2 separate regions of the Homo sapiens genome follow, and region 2 is linked to region 1. The links come from fine-mapping of genetic effects on gene expression. A gene starts in region 1. The other region holds a variant in brackets. All regions are shown on one strand. Distances are between the middles of the regions. Region 1 holds the start of MYO1A (myosin IA). Region 2 holds the start of ZBTB39 (zinc finger and BTB domain containing 39).

Region 1 (12,549 bases):
TCTGACATATGAGATAATAACCTATATTGAAATGCCAAGAATTGTATCTGAAACAAGAGAACAGTTTGACACATTTATCATGCCTTCATATTACATATTAACTGAAACCAATTAATAAACATATGAAATATCCATTGCACAAGGCAAAGGCACCTAAACCTTTTGTTTCTTTTTCTACATAGCAGAAATTGATTTTTTTTTTATTTTTTTAGGGGAACCTATATAATTATGACCCAGTGATGTCTTTTGGTGACTTAAGCTTATGAATTCAGGTTACAATTGAGTTGATTCTAGATGGTTACTACCTTGAAAAGGATGTTGGTGCCTTATGTGACACGAGCCAGAGCCTGCTGGGAATAAACAAAGCAGATTCATGCCAACACCAACTCGTAGCTTTAGTGGCAGATGGGAGTGGTCACAGACTCCCAAAATGTGGGGCTTTGGATTTCCACACCATCCCACGTGTGTGTCATCTTCCTCTTTCACACTCTTGATGATAATTTGAAAATGGTGAAATCACCTCTGAATTTGCCTATAGCATGAGCACATTCTTATGACAACATAACAAATAGTTCATAATGTGAATATTAGAAACTGTTACAGCCTGCAGTTACCATAATTTTCCATGTTTGTGGAATTGATATTGAAATAGCAGGGCTAAGGAATTACTGGCAAGTTTTAGCCTGTGGGTAATACCTTAGGGTTATTTAAATATTTGTAATTTTATTTAAATGTTCATGAATGTTTGAAAGGAACAAAATTATCAGGGATGGCTCTTTGCCATGGGTCTTATTTTCACCCTCTTTTCTGTAAGAAAAAAGAACAATGTCTTAATGTATTTTTAAAGTTTTTGGTATAGTTTCTAATTCCAATTTTAATAAAAGTTTTATAGATATATTGTGGTCTTTCTTAATGAACATAATATTTTCTTGTTTGGATTTCTTGTTTTCAGGTAATCAGCAATTTACTCCTCAGTTTCATCTTTCTAATGAGATGGTTTTGCATGCCACTGATTTCCCTTTTTTTCTTAGCCACCCCTTCCTGTCCCGAGTCTGTACTGGTCTACTTTCATCCTTGGACTGGATGATTTCCCAGGATGCAAAATCTCTAAGGGGTATTCTTGCAGGAGCAGCAGGTTGTACTACCATGCTGTCTCATAGAAAAGCAAAATACAGGTTATTCTTGGCCCAAGGAACTACTCTGATTATATTTTAGTTCTTTTTTTTTTTTTATGGCATAAAGTATCTCTTTTGTTTGTCCATTGGGATGGGGAGAAGACCTATGGCTCCAGCTATGGGATCCCTACCAAGAGCTCTGTATAGGGTGGAAGAGAGAGTAGGGCTGTAGTGAGCCTTATGTGTATTGAATAAAAACTTAAATTATGTCTAGGCCCAGCTTCTACCATAGGAGTCTGGTACCTTTCATTTTATGTATTGGCTACCTTCTTTGCTCTGGGAATCCTTTGTAATATTCATATTAACTCTGTACCTATGTTTTTTCATCTCATTAATTAATTATTATTATTATTATTTGAGACAGTCTCTTCCTGTTGCCCAGGCTGGAGTGCAGTGGCATGATCTCGGCTCACTGCAATCTCTGCTTCCCGGGTTCAAGTGATTCTCCTGCCTCAGCCTCCCGAGTAGCTGGATTACAGGCACCTGCCACCACACCCTGATAATTTTTGTAGTTTTAGTAGAGATGGGGTTTCACCACGTTGGCCAGGCTGGTCTTGAACTCCTGATCTCAAATGATCTGCCCGCCTTGGCCTCCCAAAGTGCTGGGATTACAGGCATGAGCCACTGCACCCTGCCTATTTATTATCATTATTATTTGTTTTGTTTTGTTTTTTGAGATGGAGTTTCACTCTGTCACCCAGGCTGGAGTGCAGAGGCGGGATCTTGGCTCACTGTAACCTCCGCCTCCTGGGTTAAAGCAATTCTCCCTGCCTCAGTCTCCTTAGTAGCTGGGATTACAGGCCCCCACCACCATGCCCGGCTTTTTGTATTTTTTAAGTAGAGATGGGGTTTCACCATGTTGGCCATGCTGGTCTTGAACTCCTGACCTCAGGTGATCTGCCCACCTCAGCCTCCCAAAGTTCATCTCAGTTATTTGGACTACATGGAAATCCATTGTCTATTTTTTTTAAGACAGAAAGTTGGCAAAGTAGGAAGAAAACAGGATGTAGAACATAAGTAAATTTATGTTAATGTACACTAATGACATCTTTTCTCCTCTTCCTTCCATAACTACCACTAGGTAAATAAGAGACATAGGTGATCGTTAATGGTTGAACTAATAAAAACTTAAAGCATAATTGCTAGATGTACATCATAGAGTTATAGTGAGGATAAAAAAACATGGTAAGTGATGAGCATTTTTTCATGTGTAAGTTTTGGCTGCATAAATGTCTTCTTTTGAGAAGTGTCTGTTCATATCTTTCGCCCACTCTTTGATGGGGTTGTTTGTTTTTTTCTTGTTAATTTGTTGGAGTTCATTGTAGATTCTGGATATTAGCCCTTTGTCAGATGAGTAGATTGCAAGAATTTTCTCCCATTCTGTAGGTTGCCTGTTCACTCGGATGGTAGTTTCTTTTGCTGTGCAGAAGCTCTTTAGTTTTATTCGATCCCATTTGTCAATTTTGGCTTTTGTTGCCATTGCTTTTGGTGTTTTAGACATGAAGTCCTTGCCCATGCCTATGTCCTGAATGGTATTGCCTAGGTTTTATTCTAGGGTTTTTATGGTTTTAGGTCTAACATTTAAGTCTTTAATCCCTCCTGGCCACCAGAGAAATACAAATCAAAACCACAATGAGATACCATCTCACACCAGTTAGAATGGCGATCATTAACAAGTCAGGAAACAGCAGGTGCTGGAGAGGATGTGGAGAAATAGGAACACTTTTACACCGTTGATGGGACTGTAAACTAGTTCAACCATTGTGGAAGTCAGTGTGGCGATTCCTCAGGGATCTAGAACTAGAAATACCATTTGACCCAGCAATCCCATTACTGGGTATATACCCAAAGGATTATAAATCATGCTGCTATAAAGACACATGCACATGTATGTTTATTGCGGCACTATACACAATAGCAAAGACTTGGAATCAACCCAAATGTCCAACAATGATAGACTGGATTAAGAAAATGTGACACATATACACCATGGAATACTATGCAGCCATAAAAAATGATGAGTTTATGTCCTTTGTAGGGACATGGATGAAGCTGGAAACCATCATTCTCAGCGAACGATCGCAAGGACAAAAAACCAAACACTGCATGTTCTCACTGATAGGTGGGAATTGAACAATGAGAACACATGGACACAGGAAGGGGAACATCACACATTGGGGCCTGTTGTGGGATGTGGGGAGGGGGGAGGGATAGCATTTGGAGATATACCTAATGTTAAATGATGAGTTACTGGGTGCACCACACCAACATGGCACATGTATACATATGTAACCTGCATGTTGTGCACATGTACCCTAGAATTTAAAGTATAATTTAAAAAAAAACATGGTAAGTTGGGTAAAGCAGTTCTCCAACTTTAAAGTGCATGGGAATCACCTGGGGATCTTGTTAAAATGCAGATTCTGATTCACTAAATCTTCAGTGGTGCCCAAGAATCTGCATTTATTTTTTTTTTTAAGAGACAGGATCTTGCTCTGTTGCCCAGGCTGGAGTGGAGTGCAGTGGCACACTCATAGCTCAGTGCAGCCTGGAACTCTTGGGTTCAAGCAGACCTCCCAATTCAGCCTTCCAAAGATTCTGGATTTCTGGTAAGCTCCCAGTTGATCAGATGGTGCTGGTCTGTGGACCTCATTTTGAATAGCAATGATGTAAAGCACTTAGCTTGTTGCCTGGCACATCTTAGTCCAGTCTAAGTATGATAAATGTTATTAGTACCAGATAGTTTATGAGAGCCGAGAAGACCCTCTACCACCAAATGTCTTCCTCACCATATCTGAAAATAGCTGCCTTTTTATTGTGTAACATCTTTTTAAAAGTTAGTACCTGTGGGAAGATTAATGAGTGAATTGGCTTAATCAGATTGCTGCCTTCCCAATTTGTCAGAAATCAGCACCAAATGATTTGGAATTTTTTTTTTTTTTTTTTGAGACGGAGTTTTGCTCTTGTTGTCCAGGCTGGAGTACAATGGCGTGATCTCGGCTCACTGCAACCTCCACCACCCGGGTTCAAGCGATTCTCCTGCCTTAGTCTCCTGAGTAGCTGGGATTACAGGCACCCGCCACCATGCCCGGGCTAATCTTTTTTGTATTTTTAGTAGAGACGGGGTTTCACCATGTTGGCCAGGCTGGTTTCGAGCTCTTGGCCTGAAGTGATCGGCCCGGCTCAGCCTCTCAAAGTGTTAGGATTACAGGCGTGAGCCACTGCACCCAGCCTAGAATTTTTTTTTTTTTTTTGCCAGTTTTATTGAAGTACGATTTACATAACAATATAATTTGCCAGTTTTAAGTGTACAAATTTGCTGAGTTTTGACAAATGGAGACAGTTGTATAACCACTACCACAATCAGGATATAGACCATTTCTGTAACCCCAAAAAGTTCCCTCTTGCCCCTTCCATGGTCTAGAAATGTTAATGGGGGAAAAAGGAAGGTGATTTAGGAGTCAAAGTAGAGGAAGACTAATACGCTCTGGTTGCTTCAGTTTTGCCTAGAAAGCAGGAGATTAGAAAATCCCAGCTGACTTGGATGTGTATTTCATATCTTGTTAATTTAGGCTGACCCACTGGCTCCAGTTTGCCTGGGACTTTCCTAGTTTTAACACTCAAATTCCCATGTCCAGAGAACCCCACTGTGTCCCACAGGCGGATCAGTACAGTTGGTTGCCCTAGCTGTGATGTTCATGTCATTGTTCTTACACCTGAGAGTGCCATCTCATTTTAGAGTCACTTTTCTCGTGAGTAAGCACATAGTAGGCACTCAGTTGACTGAATGGGTGGACATGCAGGTAAACCCCAGATGGCTGCAGATTCCTGGCCTAGAGAACATGAGACTTGGGTTTTGGTGCCAGCTCTGCCAGGTTTGCAGTGGTGTGACCCTGGAAAAGTGGTTTTCTCACTCTAGATCTGTTTCCTCCACTGGTAAATAGGTGATATTTGTCACTTCTGCCTCTAGGACATGGATACTGCTCCACCTACACATAGCATTATGTTTTGATGTCACTTCCACTCAGCTTTCTCTCTTTTCCTTGCCCCCCTCCACCTTCAAATATATGTAGTAGATCAATAAATTATGTAAAGGCAGGTTGATAATAGAACTGCTGATGTGCCAGGCTTACGCAGAGTGCTTCTGTGAGAGCCATAGAGTTTGGACCTTGCACCAAGCAGCCATAGCTGAGAGTTGGAGAATCAAGTCTCTCTTCAGTTAAGTGTCTATAATTACCTAATTTGTTCTTTCTGCATGCCTGGGAGAGAGGATGGTAGGCAGAGGGGGCTTGCTGTTTTTAGGAATTTTCCTGGCTGGATGAAGGGGTACTTCTTATCTATCAGAGGGAGCTATTACATTAGCTCAGGGTCTTACTCAGTATCCTAGTGCTGACGAATTAAAATTAGAAACTTCAGAACTTGGGCTGCAACTTTTGGCAAACTTAGGGAGCTGCATTCTGTTCCTGGTTCTGCCATGCACTAGCATGGAACTGTGGGCACATTGTGTAACCTCTCTGAGTCTGGTGTTTGTTCCTAGTTTTCCATTTTAATGGAGTATCTGTATTGCCTTCCTCGGGGTGGTGCTATTCAGTGAGGCAATGCAAGGGGGAGTTCAATGAAACTGGGACATCTATACACATGTGAGGTATTATTACTAATCACTTTAATCTTTGGGTCTCTATGATAGGGTCTGATTCATGGGGGAAGGGAAGTGGAGAAGAATTTGGGGATTTTGTCTGCTTAGCTCTCCAAGTAATCTCATTAACATCCCCTGACTCCCGATAAGATAGGAAGAGTAGGTATGAGGGAGGTACTGTTTTTTTGCTAGGAAGACACTCTTTGTAAAGACGTGTCTCGCCATGTTGCCTAGGCTGGTCTCGAACTCCTGGGCTCAAGTGATCCTCCCGCCTTGGCCTCCCAAAGTGCTGGGAGTATAGGCATGAGCAACCGCACTTGGCCCTACCTGTCCTTGACAAAATTCCTGACTTCTCTTTGGGAAATATTTTCCTTGGCTATAAATTCCATTCTTCCAGCTTTCATTTCCAAATTTGGGAGACAATGGAGCAAGAACCCTCCTTTAGTTAAGCCTCTCAGCTAACGCCAGCCAGATACCCTTTCCTACCTAGAGGGAGCTTGAGTGTCTCCCTCTGGGGCTTCAGGCCTGTGAAGGGTTAAGTGAGCCACACCCTCAGCAGGAACAGTCTGGACTTTGTGCTGATCAGCCATCTCCGGCCTCTCCTGGTTTGACTGGCACAGGGAGCCTGGGCTGGAAGAGGCAGCAAAAGGGAAAATCAGAAGAGTGGACACTGGCAAGAGGAGGGCAGCCTTTTTCCCAGCTTCCTTGCACCATGGACAGCTCCCATTAAGCCACCTCTCCATCCTGGGGCCAGGACTCTTATGCCCCATTCCTGTCAAATTGAGATTTCATCCACCATTCTCCAAGGACAGTGAAGTTATACCCTAGTTCCAGTGTTGGGTGAGTCCTGCCTTGACCTGTCACTGCTTCTCTTTAACACCTTGGGGCGCCCCATCTGGGGCCTCTTGCCTTTTTCCCTTCCCCACCCTCAACCAGTCACATTCCCACTCCCTTCAAATCCAAATCCAAAGAAGATGACTGCTCCCAACCCACCTTCTGCTTCTCACCCTTCCCTGCCAAGTTAGTTAAAAGACTTAGCTTTTTGTAAAATCTAGAAAATACAAAAATAGTATCTACTTCATGGGGATATTGTAAGCACTAAATGAATTAGTGTATGTACAGTGCTTAGAGCCCTGCCCAGTTCGTGGTAAACGCTGCATGATTCCTAGAGACTGCTATTATTGATATTCTTATTGCTTCCTCAGTTGTGTCCTTCTGGTAAGTGACAAGTGCTCTCTTTTCCTAGAGCTTGGGGAAAGCCAAGTGAAGGGAGAAGGAAGCCTGTGCCCCTTCTTGCCCCACTTCCGTTCCTCCTTCCTCCGCTCCTCCACCCGGGTTCAGAGATGCAATAGCATAGGAGGATGTGTCTCTTTCATTCCTGTTCAGGAGTGGCCTTGACCATTGTACTAATAATCCTGTCCTGTGCCTGGCCACTCTGCCTACTCAGTCTCACAGGAAAGACTGAGGAGGGCCAGGTTTCCTCCTTAGGGAACACCTGCCATGTGCCTACTGCATGGGGGCCAAGCCCCACCACCCTCCCTGTAGTTCCAACTGTGCTCCTCCTTGCCCACTCCCGCAAGAAGCTAGGTGTGTCCCTCTGGGGCAAAGTCCATGCCAGAAGTTTACAGGAGTGGGTGTAAAAGCTAGAGATGGAAAAATAGAGACAGACATGTAGCACATCCAGAGGTCCTGACAACTGCCTGTTTGTTGGGGAAGCAAACCCCACTTTCATTTTCTTTGGGAAATTCCAATCTCTTATGGAGGAATCCTGCCTCTATCCTCTATAATTCTGCCTTGTCAAGTTCCCATTTTAAAAATGAAGCTCACTGTAGCAATGACAGGGAAGGAGAGACCTTTGGAAGAACTTCTGAAATGGTTATGGGTAGGTTGGGTGTCTTTAATAGGGGCTGTGAGAGGTAAGGTGTTGAGAAGAAGCACTGGGGGTAGATGGGGAGTCTGGACCCTGGCCAGGGCCCATTGTAGGAGAGAGAGGGCTTTCTGTACCTGGCGGCAGCACAAGTCTTTGCTTACACTTTCCTCCTCAGCCCTCTCTCCTTCAGTCACAACTCTGCTCCCCCAGTTGTAGCCCACTGGGTGCCTGCCTTCCCCTGGTGGTCAGAGGAAGGTGTTCCTGTTCCACCCCTGCCCCACCCCCACCAACTGTAACCCAGGCAGCAGAGGATCTCCCCCACCTCCTGCTGAGAGTTTCAGCCTCCCTATTAGCTTGGGCTGGTCCAGAGGCCTCTCCTAGGTTGGGGGCTCTCTTTAGGGCCAGGGTAGGAAGAGAGGAAGGCTCTTTTGGTCCTTCTGCCATCCTCCCCTCAAACAGTTACTGGCCCCTAAAGCTGAGTGGACATCAGCAAACTGTGCCTCTTATTCCCAGGATCAGTGGCCCCTCTGGACATGCCTCTCCTGGAAGGTTCTGTGGGGGTGGAGGATCTTGTCCTCCTGGAACCCTTGGTGGAGGAGTCACTGCTCAAGAATCTTCAGCTTCGCTATGAAAACAAGGAGATTTATGTGAGTGTCATATGGGTGCCTCTGGCTGTGGATATGTGGCTGGAGAGGTCACAGGCTCCCACCTCACCCTCAAGCTCATTCCCTTCACCTTCTTCCTGGCTCCAGACCTACATTGGGAATGTGGTGATCTCAGTGAATCCCTATCAACAGCTTCCCATCTATGGGCCAGAGTTCATTGCCAAATATCAAGACTATACTTTCTATGAGCTGAAGCCCCATATGTGAGTAGGGGGACCAAGGGAAGGCTGACAGGGCCCCAGCTTCTTGACACTGAGTCATCCTAATTTCCTTTGTCCCTTCCCCTGAAGGGGCTTCTCCAGCTGCCCCTTCCTTCCCTGGCCTTCTGGAGGCCCCTTCCAAGGCCTGTCACATCTTGCCCAGTCTGCTCCAAGTAGAGAGAGTGGATGAACCTGCGTGCTGGAGATTGAGTGAAAGATGGTGTCTTGAACTGGTTTCACAATAGTCATTGCCCACTTCCTCCCCACAAGCTACGCATTGGCAAATGTGGCGTACCAGTCACTGAGGGACAGGGACCGAGACCAGTGTATCCTCATCACAGGCGAGAGTGGATCAGGGAAGACTGGTGAGGCCCCTGGCTGGGGGAACACATGGAGTCACCTCTGGAACTGCTTCCTTGTCTCTTTGCAAGCCAGACCTAGACCTGACCCTCCACCCCACAGAACTTCCTTTCCACTTTTTCTGACTCCAAGGGGTGGTGAGGCACTGGGGTGAAGCAAGTTAAGGAGGTGGGGGGATGGGCTAGTCCTGGGTGGGGACCCATGAGAGCGTTTTGCCTGCACAGAGGCCAGCAAGCTGGTGATGTCTTATGTGGCTGCCGTCTGTGGGAAAGGAGAGCAGGTGAACTCTGTGAAGGAGCAGCTGCTACAGTCTAACCCAGTGCTGGAGGGTGAGAATTCTGCTCTCTGCCCTCTCCACCCTCCATCTAACCCCCAGAATCACTGAGCCCTAGACCCTCTTCCCCAGTGCTGCAAAATCACCTCTCTTGTTCGACCCAGAAAAATCTGAGATTGTCATGAGGACTGGAAGCCCTTCCTCCTTTCCCTTCTCTAGAGTTTCACTTCTCCCCTCCTCATCTCTGTAGCTTTTGGCAATGCCAAGACCATTCGCAACAACAATTCCTCCCGATTTGTGAGTAAATGTCTCCCCACCTGGGAAGAGAGGATGTGGGGGCTTAAGAGGGAGGAATGTGGCACAGACCCCTTCCAGGCAGGGTGGTGAGAAGAGGAAGAAGCTAAGTCTCTCTCTCTGGTCTCTCTCTGAAGGGAAAATACATGGATATTGAATTTGACTTCAAGGGATCCCCCCTCGGTGGTGTCATCACAAACTGTACGTGTCTCCCCAATTCCACTCACCTGTCTTCCACCTGCCTCCCATGGCCCTTTCTGCTAATCTGTTCCTGTAGAAAGGCAGAATGTTAGACGTCAAGGAGACTTCCCAACCACTAGGAATGCCGGCGATGGGGGCATTCTCCAGTAGGGCTGGAGAAGCTACGGCATCTCCCAGGCCCTCAGGATATTATTTTTCTAATTCTCTGCCAGATCTGCTTGAGAAATCCCGATTAGTGAAGCAGCTCAAAGGAGAAAGGAACTTCCACATCTTCTATCAGCTGCTGGCTGGAGCAGATGAACAGCTGCTGAGTATGTGCCTGCATGGGGAAAGTGTCCTCATGAGTGACACATGGCAAAGTCCCCAACCTCCATTCAGTCCCAGAACCCCTGTTCCCTCTGGGCCCCTACAGCCCTCTTCCCTTGAGCCTCCCAGATTTTCCTTGCTGCATTTCCCATTCTCAGCCTCACCCACTCATTGTTGGGAACAAATTCCTTTACCCCTGTGTTCTCTTCCTTTTCTGGGGTTTTATTGCCAGGGATATGCCTTCTTGCCTCTTCACTGTTCTCGTTCCTCTTTCCTGCCTGGGTTCTGCTTTCCCTGAGCTGGCTTCAAATATAAAACACTTATATCCATCTACTTTCCTTCCTACCTTCAACTTAAGGGGATTTAATTAAAGCAGGGAAGCAGGCAGAATGTTGTAAGTGTTCAGGAACTTTCAGTGAACTCTAGTTGAAGCTGTCCTGGGTCTACATCTGCCTTACCTAGGACCCTGTTCCTGATTTTCTTTTCATTCATTCATTCACTCATTCATTTATTCATTCATTCAACATCTCTTGAACACCTATGATCAAATATTATGCTAGCCTCTAGGGATACAGAGTTGAGTAAGACATGACCCTGTCCTCGAAGAACTTATAGTCTTCTAGGGATAAGAGGTGTGTGAGCAGATCCATTGTAATATTGTGTGATCGGGGCCATCAGGCCTGTGCAGCTGGCTATAAGAGCAGAAGACCTAGAGCCCCTTGGCTTGGCCTGGGGAAGGGTCCATCACAGCCTGGATGCTGGACTGGCCTGAAGTGGCTCTGGGTGGGCATCACTGGAGTGTCTGGTGGACTTTAAGCCCTACTGGAGTTTGCCTCCCAATCTCCTCTCTGGCTGTGAGCACCGTGGGTGTCTGGCCCCTAAGAATGTCTCTTTGGTTTCTGGTGATTCTATGATAGACCTGTGCTATCTCCTTTTCCACTCTTGGAGATCTCTGTGATCTTCAGGAACCCCTGCAGATCTCATGCTCTTTCCTGGCTTAATAGTTTTGGTTATGTTCAACTTGTCTGCATCATGGGCATTAGTGTCTTGTTCTGGTTGGTCTGTCATCTATTGGTTTAAATCAACTCTAGATGAGGTCTCCCAGGTATCATCATCCCCAGACATTCTGACTCATTCTCCCTCCAGATACCCTCCTTAGCAGGCCCTTGTTTCAAACTTTGTGTGCTGGGGGAGCTGCCATTAGACTATAGTTTGAGGGATACTCCCTGATTCTCAGATCATTTGCATACCAGATAATTGACATCCCTCAAACTCCATGATTAACCGAATCCCTCCCATCCTAGGGAAACAGCTTTGATCATTCACTTGATTCATTTATTAAAAAGAGAAAATTTCCTGCATGCCAGAAAGGCACACAGAATATGGAGATGAGAAACACAGTCCCAACCCACAAGTTGCTCATTTATGGGAGAGACAGAAAAAAACAAAACCTAGCCCATATGATATGGGCTGGGATATAGATTCACCAGTGGGGAATGCAAGACAGCCATTTGGCTCAGGCCCTCAGCATCAGAGAAAACTTTTCAGAAGAGGTGTCAGGGTCAGGGAACATGCTACCTGCCACTTTATTGGTGTTTGGTGTTCAAACAATGAATGAGCAACCCACGCCAAGAGTTGAGGCTGGGGGCAGGCAGGAGATATGCGCTTACCCTTCTCCCCTTACCTTCACCGTCCAGAGGCACCTGCGTAGGATGGAAGGGTTGCTTGTTTATTTTTATTGTTTAGAACCCTGAGGGTAGGGAGAAGAGTAAAATGAGGGTTTTGTTTCATAAAAGTTGGGGGAAAACCCAATCAATATGAGCATCAAAACCCTAAACACTACTTAAAAGTATACTTAAAAATTTAGTCTGTTAGGCCGAGTGACTCATGCCTGTAATCCCAGCACTTTGAGAGGCCGAGGCGGGTGGATTGCTTGAGTGCAGGAGTCAAGACCAGCCTGGCCAACATAGAGAAACCCCATCTCTACTAAAAATACCAAAATTAGCCAGGCGTGGTGGCATGCACCCATAGTCCCAGCTACACAGGAGGCTGAGGCATGAGAATCACTTGAACCTGGGAGGTGGTGCTTGCAGTGAGCTGAGATCGCACCACTGCCCTCCAGCCTGTGTGACAGAGTGAGACCCTGTCTCAACAACAACAAAAATTAGTCTATCATCACAGGAATTAATGATCCCAAAACAAAGGAGGCAGGGGAAGAACCCAAAACAAAAATGACTCCTTTGGATAAGTGAATGAATCCATTAGGGCAAGGGCTGTGAGGTGTCAAGGCTGGAGGGCTCCAGAGAGCCTGGGTACTAACCATCTTCCCCAACACTGGCCCTCCCAGAGGCCCTGAAGCTTGAGCGGGATACAACTGGCTATGCCTATCTGAATCATGAAGTATCCAGAGTGGATGGCATGGACGACGCCTCCAGCTTCAGGGCTGTACAGGTGGGTGCCCAGGGTGAGGCAGGCTTGGGCCCTTAGGTCATCCTCTATTCGCATTGGACTGGCACCAACAGTTCAGCTTTTGATTTCTGCTTTCTGCCTAAGAGTGCAATGGCAGTG
Region 2 (12,549 bases), 39 kb after region 1:
AGATTACAGGCACCAGCCACTATGCTCAGCTAATTTTTTGTATTTTTAGTAGAGATGGGGTTTCAACATGTTGGCCAGGCTGGTCTCGAACTTCTGACCCCAAGTGATCCGCCCGCCTCGGCCTCCCAAAGTGCTGGGATTACAGGCGTGAGCCACCATGCCTGGCGTGCTTAGCCTATTTTTAATGGGAGTTTCATCCTCAATGGTGAGTGCTTTCATTGTCTTTAGGTGCCCCAGACCATGTTTTTAAAAATTTAAATGCACGAAGAAATAAGTAGCCCTGTATAGTAGTAATACTTTGTTGTGAATAACTGTCATAAGTCATCTCTAAAACTGTATTTTTTATCTAGTTATTATATATGACTAGCTATATGTCTAGTTTTTTAAATAATACAAAGTAATTTATTTTTGGCATCCTCAAAAACCAAAGAGATTAGGTAATGTAGTGTAGAAGAGAGCAGAGCTTTAGACCTGAGAAGAATCTGCCCATGACTCGTGAAACTCCACAACGAAAGTAGGAGACCCCAAAAAAGGGGTGAGTGTCATCTTTTCTGAATTTTTTTTTTTTTTTAGATGGAGTCTTGCTCTGCCACCAGGCTGGAGTGCAGTGGTGCAATCTCGGCTCAGCCTCCCGAGTAGCTAGGATTACAGGCACGCGCCACCATGACCAGCTAATTTTTGTATTTTTAGTAGAGACAGCGTTTCACCATGTTGGCCAGGATGGTCTCGATCTCTTGACCTCGTGATCCGCCCGCCTCGGCCTCCCAAAGTGCTGGGATTACAAGCGTGAGCCACTGCACTCGGCCGGTCAGATAATTTTTTTGGCCAGTTTTTACATAGAGTAATTTTAGGTTTTATGGCTGGCTTTGGGGCAAAGGGGTTCTGGTTTTTATAGCTGGTCTTGGGGGAGAATGGAACCGAGTGACAAGAGGACAAGAGAGGGTCAGAGAAAAACTTCTGCTTCTGAGGCGGCTATTGAGGCCTTCATTTTGGAGTATTGTCCTCTAAGCCCCAGCAGTGTCAAACTGTACACAAACCATACACAGCAGCCAGCTCGGGTGCTGTTAGGAAATGGTCTCACTGCTGGGTCTGTGGGGTATGTGTGTGTCTGGGTGTGTGGCTACTGTCTGCATCCTCCTCCCCCCTACAGCCTCCCCGCCTCCCCTCCAGCCACCCTGGGATTGGTGACTCTCAGCCCCTCCCCTCAGCTCCCCTAGACCCTCCCAGAGCCTTTATCAGGGAGCTGGGACTGAGTGACTGCAGCCTTCCTAGATCCCCTCCACTCGGTTTCTCTCTTTGCAGGAGCACCGGCAGCACCAGTGTGTGAGGGGAGCAGGCAGCGGTCCTAGCCAGTTCCTTGATCCTGCCAGACCACCCAGCCCCCGGCACAGAGCTGCTCCACAGGTAGGCAAGTGGGAGAATGCTGGATGGACCAGAGCTGGCACCAGGGGACAGGAGCCAGCGTCAGGAGGGAATAAAGCAGATGGCAGCCTCTGATAGGGGAGCAGGGGACTGGGAAGGTGAGCACAAAGCACCTGTAGGGCCGAGAGCTGGTTGGTGTTTGGAGCCTGTGGCTACAGACTCATTCTTTCATACCAGAAAGTTTTTGCCTAAGTCTTGGGATTATCTAGTACTGGAAAATAGCATCCAGGATCCCTCCTCCAGCTGACTGAGGAAACAGACCAGTCCATGTCCTACAAATCTATCATCTTTCTTGGGAGCTAGAGTCCTCCTGGCACCACTATAGCATTGCACATCTCCTGGGGAGATATCTGATGGGGTAGCAGGGAAACTAAGCCCAAGGGCTGTACCCCCTTCTCAGAAATACTTTCCACCCTCTCTCCAGACCAGGGCTTGGACAGTGGAGTTGGGGGCTGGGGAAGCAGGGTCAAGCCAAGCTGCTGGTAATGAATGTCTCTTGTGTCTTCACCCATGCTGTATCTTCCTCTTCTCTCCTTTACCTGAGTCCTGTCCCTTTGCTCTCCCAGGCACCATGAGGATCATGCTGCTATTCACAGCCATCCTGGCCTTCAGCCTAGCTCAGAGCTTTGGGGCTGTCTGTAAGGAGCCACAGGAGGAGGTGGTTCCTGGCGGGGGCCGCAGCAAGGTAAGTCTCCCCTGGCAGAGTACTGGGGACATCACGGGAACTTGGGACTCTGCCTGTCTGGACAGCTGTAGTGAGGAAACTGGGGTGGGGGGGTTGTCCGTCAGAGGGCATTTTGCCTCCCTTTGGATTTCTTTGTTTCTCTGGTCCTTTCATGTTCCCACTGTCTCCAGGTGTGTTTGTGTCTCTGTATCTCTGCATGTCTTTGACACCTTGTACATAAAAGGTGCCCTACAAATATGTTGTTTGGTGGGTTGATTGATGGGAGACTTGGTGATTGGATGGTACTGTGAGGGGTGAGCTAGGGTGGTCTAAGGCTCTCTATAGTCTACCTCAGGTCCCTTTGCAAGGGACAGATCTCTTCTATTTCCTGGATGGTATGAAACAGTCAGAATTTCTTTCCCAAATGGTTATTTGTGTGCTATTTTACCTATCAGTTATGTGTATTGTTTTATTTTCAAAATGCAAATAAATTCCCTTATCTTTTGCTCATCCACCCCCAGTAACCTCAGGTGCTTCTAAGATCCCAACCCCTTCCTTCTTCTCTTTTCTCCCTTGCCCGCCTCTATCCTCTGCTTAGTCAGGATAGGAAAACAACAACAGCAAAAAAACCAGATTGAGCCTCGATTTCCACAGTTCCTTTACGAAAAAGAATAGGAATTGTCAGGGTAGGGGTACAGGGGGAGGATAGGGAGGAAGTCTTTTCAAGGTTTTGAAATGACAGCAATTACATCGGTACAAATGCTTTTAAGATGATTGCGGGTGGGACTTATTACAAATTCAATGTGTGAAGTTTAACTGCCTCTTCAGCTCAAATCTGTTCAGCATCTCATTATAGGAGGTGGGCAGAGTATTCAACAATTTGGGAAAAGTGGCTGCCTGAACACCACATGCTGGGCCAAGGGAGTTATCACCAGGGCAGCCTTGCAGGTGGCAGCAGTTGTGCCATATCCAAAAGGCCAGAACCGTTAAAAAAAAAAACACCCAGGGGAGTGCCAAGTATGGGCTGGACACCGTTTGGAGCCACAAAGTTCCAGCCCAGGATAGTTAGAGTATCTGAGTTCTTCTGAGACAAACTTGTTTCAAGACCTTGGCCAATGAGATGTCCCCTCTGCCCCTCTTGGTCAATGAATGAGAGGGATTGCCATCCTACCCCTTCTCCTTGAGAGTCTGTGAGGATGAGGGAAATTGGGGCAGGAAGAGGGTAGTACATAGGTGTGCCTAGGCAACTGGGTTGGTATGTGTGGGGGTGTGTTCTGTGTAAATGCACTTCTGTGTGTGCACAACAGCCGAAGGATGCCTGGGTTCTGGAAAGAGAGGCGCTGCTGAGACTTGAGATTTGAGATGAAAATCTCCAGCCATGATCATTGTTATTGTCTCTCTGCAGCTGCAATTAACTGGCTGTGTGGTGTGTGCCCACCACCCTGCTGTACGCAAGTTGCTAAAAAAAAAAAAAAAATCACAGGGACAATCAAGAGCCCGTGCTGGGCAACAGCTCTAGAACTTGGGATTCAGTTGTGGAGAGAAGAAGACGTGCCTTCTGAGCATGTTGCCTTCCTGGAATTCTAGACCTAGGGCCAAAAGGGAGAGGGAGAGAAAACTAGAGGCGGAAAGCCATGGAGAATAGAGAAAGAGGTGGTGGAAAACAGGGAGAGAAACATCCATGGACATCGTGCAGAGTGGGGGAATCACAGGTGCAGATGTGTGCCTCCAATCTCACCATGCATGTGAATCACCTGGGGGGCTGCTTAAAATGCAGATTCTGTCTCAGGAGGTCTGGGGTAGGAACAAGAGTCTGCATTTCTAACAGGCTCTGTGTAGTGCTGGTGTTGCTGTTGGTCCACAGGTCACTCCTGGAGCACCTACTTCTCGTCCAGTGTGAACCAGAGGAAACTCTGAAAGAAATAGGGTGTCGGATTCAGGATGGGCTCAGGAAGAGGCTGTTTCTTGTGGGAAAAGGATGAGTGGATCCGGGTGGGAGCCTCCTGCCTCACCCCTCTTTGTTTCTTCCCTAGAGGGATCCAGATCTCTACCAGCTGCTCCAGAGACTCTTCAAAAGCCACTCATCTCTGGAGGGATTGCTCAAAGCCCTGAGCCAGGCTAGCACAGGTAGGAGGCGGCCCTAGGGGAGAGGGGAATGAGGGGCAGGATTCTGAAGATAAGAGGCCTGGGAGATCCTTTCAGATGGGAGAGAGATGGGGGATAGCTTAGTGAATCGGTGAGGGTTGTGATCTGAACCCCGCTCTCATCACTTTCCAACTTCACTCCCCATTTAGACATCTGTTCTTGGTTTCACAGATCCTAAGGAATCAACATCTCCCGAGAAACGTAAGTACCCTCTTCTCCCTCCCTATCTCTTGCCACTTGCCCAGAGCTCTGTGGGGCATTGGGCCCAGGGGCCATTTTGTCCAGCCCCTTCTCACCTGGTACAAACAATATGCCAGCTCCCACTGCTCAGCCAACCTTTCCTGAAAGGGAGAGGCCATCCAGAACTAGGAGGAAGCTGGTGTGAGGGGCATGGTGGGCTCTCCCTCTGCTGGCTGGTCCTTGGAAAACAAGGGGATCTCTTCGTGGCCCTGAAAATTCCAAATCAGGCACCTGCTAGAGCAGAAAATTCTTGAAATGTGGAGGAAGGAAAGGTGAGCAGAGAGAGTGGGTTTAGGGGAGGCACTTGCTAACTGTGAGGAGTCATGCTTTGACAAGAAAAAGGAACAGAGACCAGAAACCCAGTCTCAGAAGTGTTGACCCATGTCTGGGGAGATGCTTCACTTTCTCATCATCACTGCTGACAATGTTGGCCCTTTTCTGCAGGTGACATGCATGACTTCTTTGTGGGACTTATGGGCAAGAGGAGCGTCCAGCCAGGTAGGAGTGTGTGGAGGTACAGTGGAAGGGCTTAGGGTACTGGCAGAGTATGACAGAAGTCACGTGCCTCATATTTGTCACCAGAGGGAAAGACAGGACCTTTCTTACCTTCAGTGAGGGTTCCTCGGCCCCTTCATCCCAATCAGCTTGGATCCACAGGAAAGTCTTCCCTGGGAACAGAGGAGCAGAGACCTTTATAAGGTAGTCCTGTTGCAGCTGGGAGGAAGGATAGGGAGACTCTGCTTCCACCCCAGTCTCCCAACTCTGTCTTTGAACACTGCCCGTCATAGCCAGCCCTTTGCTGTTGGATCAGGGTGTAGTTCACATTCAGAAAGATCCCTCTTACTTACACTGTTCGCTTTACCCTAGACTCTCCTACGGATGTGAATCAAGAGAACGTCCCCAGCTTTGGCATCCTCAAGTATCCCCCGAGAGCAGAATAGGGTAAGGATTGTTCATTAGAGAGGGGAGAGGGGACTGGGGAGGGGGCTGTGGGGGTTGCCAGCTGTGCATTTCCTCCCATGCTACAGGTATTAAAGCTCATAGATTTGCCCTGAAATACACTGCCAATGCCCAGCACACTGTCGGCCAAACACAAAGACACTTAGAGGCACGTGTGTTTGTACACATCCCCCGTCTTTCATCTCTTTCCTCTGGATCATGGACGGCAGCTGACTATTGAGCAGGAGTGAGTGTTGGGAGATGAGGAGAGAGGGGCTTCCCCGATGGGCAATTTCTGTTGTTTGGACTTCATTCTTTTGTAATCTATGCAAAAAGATGGAGAAATTATTATCTGATAATTACAAATACCACAACCAATTCACAGGCAAGCATTTGCCTCCCAGGCAGGCTGAGCCTTTCAAATCACTCAGAATCCTGGGTTACGGGGCCCAGAAGGTAGTCATACACAAGGATGATTCAGGAAGAAATGCAAGGAACTCTGAAATCTAATGGGGATTAGCAGGAAACCATATCTGAATCTCTCTTTAGCATAATGAATAAGAACAATGGCCTGAATGTGAATCCTGGATCTGCCACTCTATCTGTATCTTTTTGGCCAAGGTACATATCCTCCTGTGCTTCAGTTTCCTCATCTGAAAAATGAAAGTGATAATAGTATCTCACAGGGTTGTGGTTTTGAGGATTGAGTATAGGTAAAGTGTTCAGAACAGTGCCGGGTGCACAGTGCTGTGTGCCAATTTTATGATAATTGTCCCAGTTTGGGAGGTATGGGGGATGTCCTAATGTTTCCCCTGACTGGCTCTGTCTGGACCCCAGGCCTGAGTGGGCTGACAAATTCCTCACTTGGTATGCGAGTGTAAGAGTCCCCCAGGGAAGTGTCTAGTCAAAACACGAACCTTCCGCCTTGACACTGTCTTCCCACACACAGCAAGAGCAGCTCCACCAATGGCTTTCTTTTCACTAGCTTCCAAAGAATTGGGGTGGAGGGAGTGAAAAGGAGAGGGAGAGAGATTGGGAAGGCTCGTAATCATGGAGAGCCTCCTGCTTTTCTCTCTGTGTCCCTGTTACCCATACTCACTGGTCTCAAGGTGGCACGCCCAAGACCCAAGGAGCTGGTGCTTGATGATGCTGCCTGTGCATGAATTCCTGGGACCAGAGACTGAGTCTGGCCCCCCATTTAGTGTTGGGTGAGAGGGCACAAAGAGCTATAATAACTGTAACTTGCTGATTACATGGTAGTTACTGTATCATTTTGCTCTCATTAGATGGTTATTTCAGTCCTGCCGACGGCCAGATAATTATACGAGCAGCTATATCTGGATGACATACTCTGCTCCAGCGTTATGCACTGGCCATAAAGATAATTACAGTGCAATTTTGCTATAGTATTTTATACAAATGGCAAAAACAAGTGCATTGTGGAAATCTACTTTTAATGCTTGTTTGTGCATCCAGGCTCTTTCAGAGGGACCCATAATTGCAGCTTTCATAATCTTACCATTGAGGGAGCATTCCCAACCTGTTAGGTGTCAGGCAGAATAGGACATAAGGTTTCTGGGAGCTGGCATTTAAAGATTAGATGAGATGGATCAACACAGATCATTGTGTCATCTGATTTCATTCATGTGAAACTGTAAGTAATCCCTGGGCCTGTGCTTCCTCTGGGAGGTTTCTGGGAAGAGGAGGAACTGGATAAGGCAGGGGGAGCATTCATAGTAGGGCACCTTGGGCAGGGCTGTGTGTGTGTCTGGCTCATGGTGGTGCTAGGATGGCATGAACTTGGTTCCTACATCTTTGGTCCACATGGGCCCCACTGGCCATGCACACAGGTGTGTAGAGTAATGTAAATATGGCAGCTGGGAAGGTGCAAGTACCTGCGGCTAGGAGAGTTCCATCCTCAGGCCCAAAGCCTGGAGGGCAGGCTGAGGGTCAAGACTTGTTCTTTCCTCTCTCACAGACGCCTCTCCCCTTCTCTCCTGCTGCCACAGCAGGTTTTCAGTGGGACTTTTTTACAGGATATAAGATGTGATTTCAGTGTTTTTTTTTGTTTTGTTTTGTTTTTTGTCCTCAGTACTCCACTTCCGGACTCCTGGACTGCATTAGGAAGACCTCTTTCCCTGTCCCAATCCCCAGGTGCGCACGCTCCTGTTACCCTTTCTCTTCCCTGTTCTTGTAACATTCTTGTGCTTTGACTCCTTCTCCATCTTTTCTACCTGACCCTGGTGTGGAAACTGCATAGTGAATATCCCCAACCCCAATGGGCATTGACTGTAGAATACCCTAGAGTTCCTGTAGTGTCCTACATTAAAAATATAATGTCTCTCTCTATTCCTCAACAATAAAGGATTTTTGCATATGAATGATGTGGTGTGTGTGTTTACTTGTTTGGTTGGTGGGTTTTTCTGTTCCTTGACTCCTCCAGCTACATGGTAAATACACACATACTTATGATACACACACTTCATATTTAAATGTAAATAACTTTACATATCTTTTTGTATATATCTATTTCCTGAACAGTGCCTTACACAGTGCTTTGCACGATGAGTATCAGATTTATTTAGTGATTAAAATAAATACACGAATTTGGAAGATGGTTTCTAACACACAAAGATTTTTACAGACCAGTTTTAGATAAAGAAAAAACAGGCCGGGCCCGGTGGCTCACGCCTGTAATCCCAGCACTTTGGGAGGCCGAGGCGGGTGGATCACGAGGTCAGGAGGTCGAGACCAGCCTGACCAACATGGTGAAACCCCTTCTCTACTAAAAATACAAAAATTAGCCAGGCATGGTGGCGCATGC[C/T]TGTAATTCCAGCTACTTGGGAGGCTGAGGCAGGAGAATCGTTTGAACCCAGGAGGCAGGGGTTGCAGTGAGCCGAGATCACGCCACTGCACTCCAGCCTGGGCAACAAGAGCAAAAAACTCCGTCTCAAAACAAAACAAACAAACAAAAAAAACAATAAAAAAAGAAAAAGAAAAAGAAAAAAAATATTCAGAATGACTTGTATTACTAGGATGGGTCTGGGAGATATTCATTCCTGAATCTGACCCTACTTAATTAGAGAAGGAGGTGGGGATCAAGGCTGTCCGGAGACCCAGCCACAGAGGAGGACAAATCTATGACCCTATACAATTTTTTTGTCTCCAAATGCTGAGCCTGGGTTCTGTGACAGATCCTGGGGATGAAATGATGACTCATACACAGAGTTTACAGTTTAGCAGGGCTGTGGACAAGCAAACAGAACTTGATCCAGCTAGGATGGGATGTGGACAGGGAAGTTACTACCGAGGCCAAGAAAGAGAGGAGCAGATATCTTCACCGTTAACTGGCTGCCTTAGTTATTATAAAGGGAAAACATTTATCTCCCACTCCTCTCTAAAGTGCCTGTTACCAGCTCCTGCAGCTCTGACTTAACAGTCCCCAGAATGTGTAAGGCACTTACATGTGGTATGCATGGGTATGGATGTCTTTTACTAATCTATGATGTCAACTATCACCCGCCATCCTAAGGGGGGTTCTGTACCCTAATGGAACAGCCAGTGAAATCCTCAGGCTCCTTATCTTAGCGTGGTACAGGGGCCTTTGTTATGCCCCTGAATTGCACTGATAAAACATCAACACATAGATTTCCCAAGGCAGTGTAAGGACAGGGCCACAGAGCCAGAGGCCACTTCCTGCAGTCCTTTCATTCTAGTGAAAATTCTATCTTCCTACAGCCTGACTTGGGGCCACTTTGGAATGACAGCTGTATAGTGGGGGGCGGGGAAAGGAGGGAATACTCACCCTAGTATTACTTATGTCAGCTTTATAGCCAGAGGTCAAAGAATGCCCCCACCCCAGAGCCTAGACCCTTTTTCCAGTGAGTCATCTCTTTGACTTTTCAAAATTATCTATCTATAGGGCTTAAAACTGGGGACACTTTTGCAGAGTCTAGGGGCTTTCTCTGGGTCATGAAAGCTACAAGAGTTGGTTCTGCTCAGACTTGGTGGGAGTTAGGCTTATAGGCTGAGATGAGACAATTGCTTTGCAAGTAGGAACATTAAGTGCAGAAAGATTGCTCTCTAGTGGGACTGACAAAAATTGCAGTACTGGGGACTCCAGAAAAAAATGAAGACAAATGTTAAGTTAGATTCCTGTGTTTGTACTTGAAGAATGTGTGAAGGGATCCTGACCCTCCCTTTCCTGTTGTAAAACAGTTGATGCCTAAAGAGATCTGGTCCACAAGACCTTGACTAAATTCCTGGCCCTTTCTTCTCCATTTAACTTTGTATATGTTTGTTATTGTGACTATATGGTGATTTACTTTAAAAAGACTTCAGTATAAGTGGTATATACTTTCACCTGCGTCTTTTGGATGATTTGTTTTCATGTGAAGTTTATTGGGGTCAACCCTCCAGAGATGGCTGGGGCAGTTGGTTAGAAAGACTGTATAGGCCCAGGCCCTTGCAAGCCCAGCAGCCCTCTGTCTCCAGAGTCATGCTGGAGGTCTGGACCTGCTGGCTGTGTGATATTCCACTTTAGGGAGACTCAGTCACCTTGCACAACTGTGAGAGCTGGGCCTGCCACTGAAACATTGTGTCAACCTCTAAGTGACCCTTTCACTAGATGGTAAAGTGAGATGCCTCATCCCCAAACTATAAGAACAGTTCTATGGCTGTTTTTGTATCTCCTGGCTAACAAATGTTACATGTTTGGCAGCATTTGGTATAGTGCTTGCTTTCAGTATAGTCTGCCACCAGTTAATGAGGTTGTGGAAAGGAGGACACACAATCTCCCAAATTCATCAAGAGAATGGACAATTGCTGAATGGCCAAACTGGCTTAGATCTGTTGGCAACATTCAGTGTGTCCCTTCCTTTCCACTTATCCATCAAGGAATTACTGAATCCTACCATGCGCCTGTCCTGGGAGTTTGTCCTTGGCTGCAAGCTATTTTCAGGCAGTGACTGGGATGGGATGGGAGAGAGGATGAAACTGAAGGGTCTTGGAGCCTAAGAGCTTCCTCTGTACTGAGGGAGGGAGGGCGACATGACGAAGACTTCTAATGTCTTTGGTGGTGGTGGGTGGGGCAGGCAGTGTAGGTGGTTTTCGTTTGATGACAATTCTTGGGCAGAAGCATTTGAAAAGATGATTTGGGAGAAGGGTGGGGAGGAAGAGTGATCGAGTTCTACACAGAGTTGGGGAGGGCAGGCTTCAGGAAGCAGGCCTGGGGTGCCAAAGTACAGTGAGATCCGGTGACTTTCTTCATTTGGCCACCTAGATGGAAGGAGGGACAGCAGTGGATTATCAGAAGGGTCCAGTAGTAGCGGTCTAGCCCTCAAGTGCTCCTTCATTCATTCAAGCAGGCTTAATGTATTAAGCACTTATTGTGCCAGGAAGTGTGGTAAGGGTCAGTGTGGACCTGCGGCCGTGTGCAAAGCCACAGATCCCTGCCTTCAGGAAGCCCACAGCCTAGTGGAGGAGATATATAGTAATCAAACAATCTTACAACATTTTGTAAAATGCCCATAGTAGATGTTCTGAGGAGAAGCTTTTGGAACTGTGAGCGTAGAACAGGGGAGGTGAAGAGAGTTTGGATAGGGTTTTTCACTCTTCAGGCACCAAGTCCCGCGCACAGTGGATGGGCGCTTAGAAAAAGCCAGCCTGGGGACTTGGAAGCCCCTGCACCCCTCGCGCAGGTCCTGGACCCGGCCCCGCCGTGGGGGGGCGCTGCCTCCTCCCGGGCGGCGGGGGGCGCTGCGGCCGGGCGGCGGGGGGCGCTGCCTCCTCCGGGACGGCGGGGGGCGCTGCGGGCCGGGCGGCGGGGGCGGCCCGGGCCGTCGCGGCGAGCCGCGCGGCGGATGGAGAGTCTGGCCGCGGCCGGCGGCGCCGCCTCCTCGTCGGGCCGGGCACGGCGGGCCGGGGCCTTTGTGTGAAGCGGCGGCGGCGATGGTGCTCGGGGCGCCGCAGAGCCGGGTAAGCGCGGCCAGGCCGAGGGCTGCCCCTGGCCGAAGCCCGACCTTCGGCCCGGCATTTATCTCGCTCTTGCTGGGGTCCCTCTTGCCCGCTCCCTTCGGCCGGACCCATCCTCCCCGCCCGCGCGCCGACCCCGGCCGGCCCCGCCGCCCCTCGCTTGGCCCCTTATTCAGCCCCATGCCCCCAACAGGCTCACCCGGGTGAGCCCCGCGCTGTTTGTGGAGGGACTGAGGCGCTCGTTGCCTCCAGAGGGAGCGCCCCAGCCGATGCAGCGCCCTTCCCTCCCAGATGCGACTCCGGAGGGGAGACCGCGGCGCCCGGGGATTGTTGGGGTGTCCTTGGAAGTTCCCAGCTTCCCCCTCTCCCACCCTCTCCTCTGGCTGCCCAGTGCTCCGACCCGCCCATCGTTCAGGGGTGGCCACCAGGGCCCGGGAGATGCTTGGCCGGTACCCCACAATACTTAGACGCTTCCTGGGCCCCAGAAAAAGTTGGGAGTTGTTAGAATCTGGAGAGATGGAGAAAGGGGCTGTGTTGGGCAGAGTTGTGAGACTGAACAGGGATGCAAGTAGCTCTTCTTCCTTAGTCGTGCAGGAGTCAGAAAGGGCAGAAAGTGGTAGTGAACAAGCCTCTAGGAGTCTTACCTGTATAATTAGAAGTCTTTCTTGCGGCATCAAGTAAATCTGTTAGTGCAGGGACAACAAAATATAAACCCCGAAAAGGGTGGCGAAAAAGAATACAACATATTAAAGTAATATTAAATACTACCACAGTTGTGTTCTACTTTTCTTACTGTGCATTCTGAGTGTTTTAACTTCACAGAATACAGGGACTGTGATAAAGCAATATCTGGAGGGGCTCTGGGTTATCGAAAGGCCAGAGAGCGGGTATGTAGTATAGGCAGAGAGAGATGGGGATTCAAGAACGTGAGATTTATTTGGAGATTATTGAGAGGTTGAAGACACAGCAATGACAAAGCTAAAAAACGGAACCACCTTATATGTTCCTCAGTAGCTAGTGGAGCTTTGATAGTTGTGTTCAAGCATGTGCATGGTATTTGGCATCATGAGGGAAAAGAATATGCTCAATGAATTAGGAAAGCTTGTATTTGGGAGGAAATTAATAGGAGAAAAATTTGATCCAGTGGCTCTGGTAATGAAGTATAA

Evidence for each region. PIP is the estimated chance that this variant, and not a neighbour inherited with it, causes the effect.
Region 2: its variant is fine-mapped to the expression of MYO1A in whole blood (TOPMed, PIP above 0.99).

The regions. Positions count from the first base shown.
Region 1 is chr12:57,043,989-57,056,537 of GRCh38, reverse strand. MYO1A (myosin IA) reads left to right here and starts at 6,409. Exons shown (of 28, transcript NM_005379.4): 1 at 6,409-6,651; 2 at 8,195-8,328; 3 at 8,434-8,549; 4 at 8,817-8,911; 5 at 9,131-9,235; 6 at 9,431-9,477; 7 at 9,612-9,675; 8 at 9,888-9,986; 9 at 12,329-12,432; 10 at 12,535-12,549. The coding sequence starts at 8,215. It overlaps NEMP1 (nuclear envelope integral membrane protein 1), which reads left to right. Exons shown (of 9, transcript NM_001130963.2): 9 at 1-895. RefSeq lists an enhancer at 8,488-9,687.
Region 2 is chr12:57,005,242-57,017,790 of GRCh38, reverse strand. It overlaps ZBTB39 (zinc finger and BTB domain containing 39), which reads left to right and starts at 11,245. Exons shown (of 2, transcript NM_014830.3): 1 at 11,245-11,386. TAC3 (tachykinin precursor 3) reads left to right here and starts at 1,262. Exons shown (of 7, transcript NM_013251.4): 1 at 1,262-1,404; 2 at 1,989-2,107; 3 at 4,120-4,213; 4 at 4,403-4,432; 5 at 4,916-4,969; 6 at 5,339-5,413; 7 at 7,503-7,791. The coding sequence starts at 1,994. The coding sequence ends at 5,412. RefSeq lists silencers at 11,047-11,406, 11,427-11,576. The variant C/T (reference allele first, on the strand shown) is at 8,235.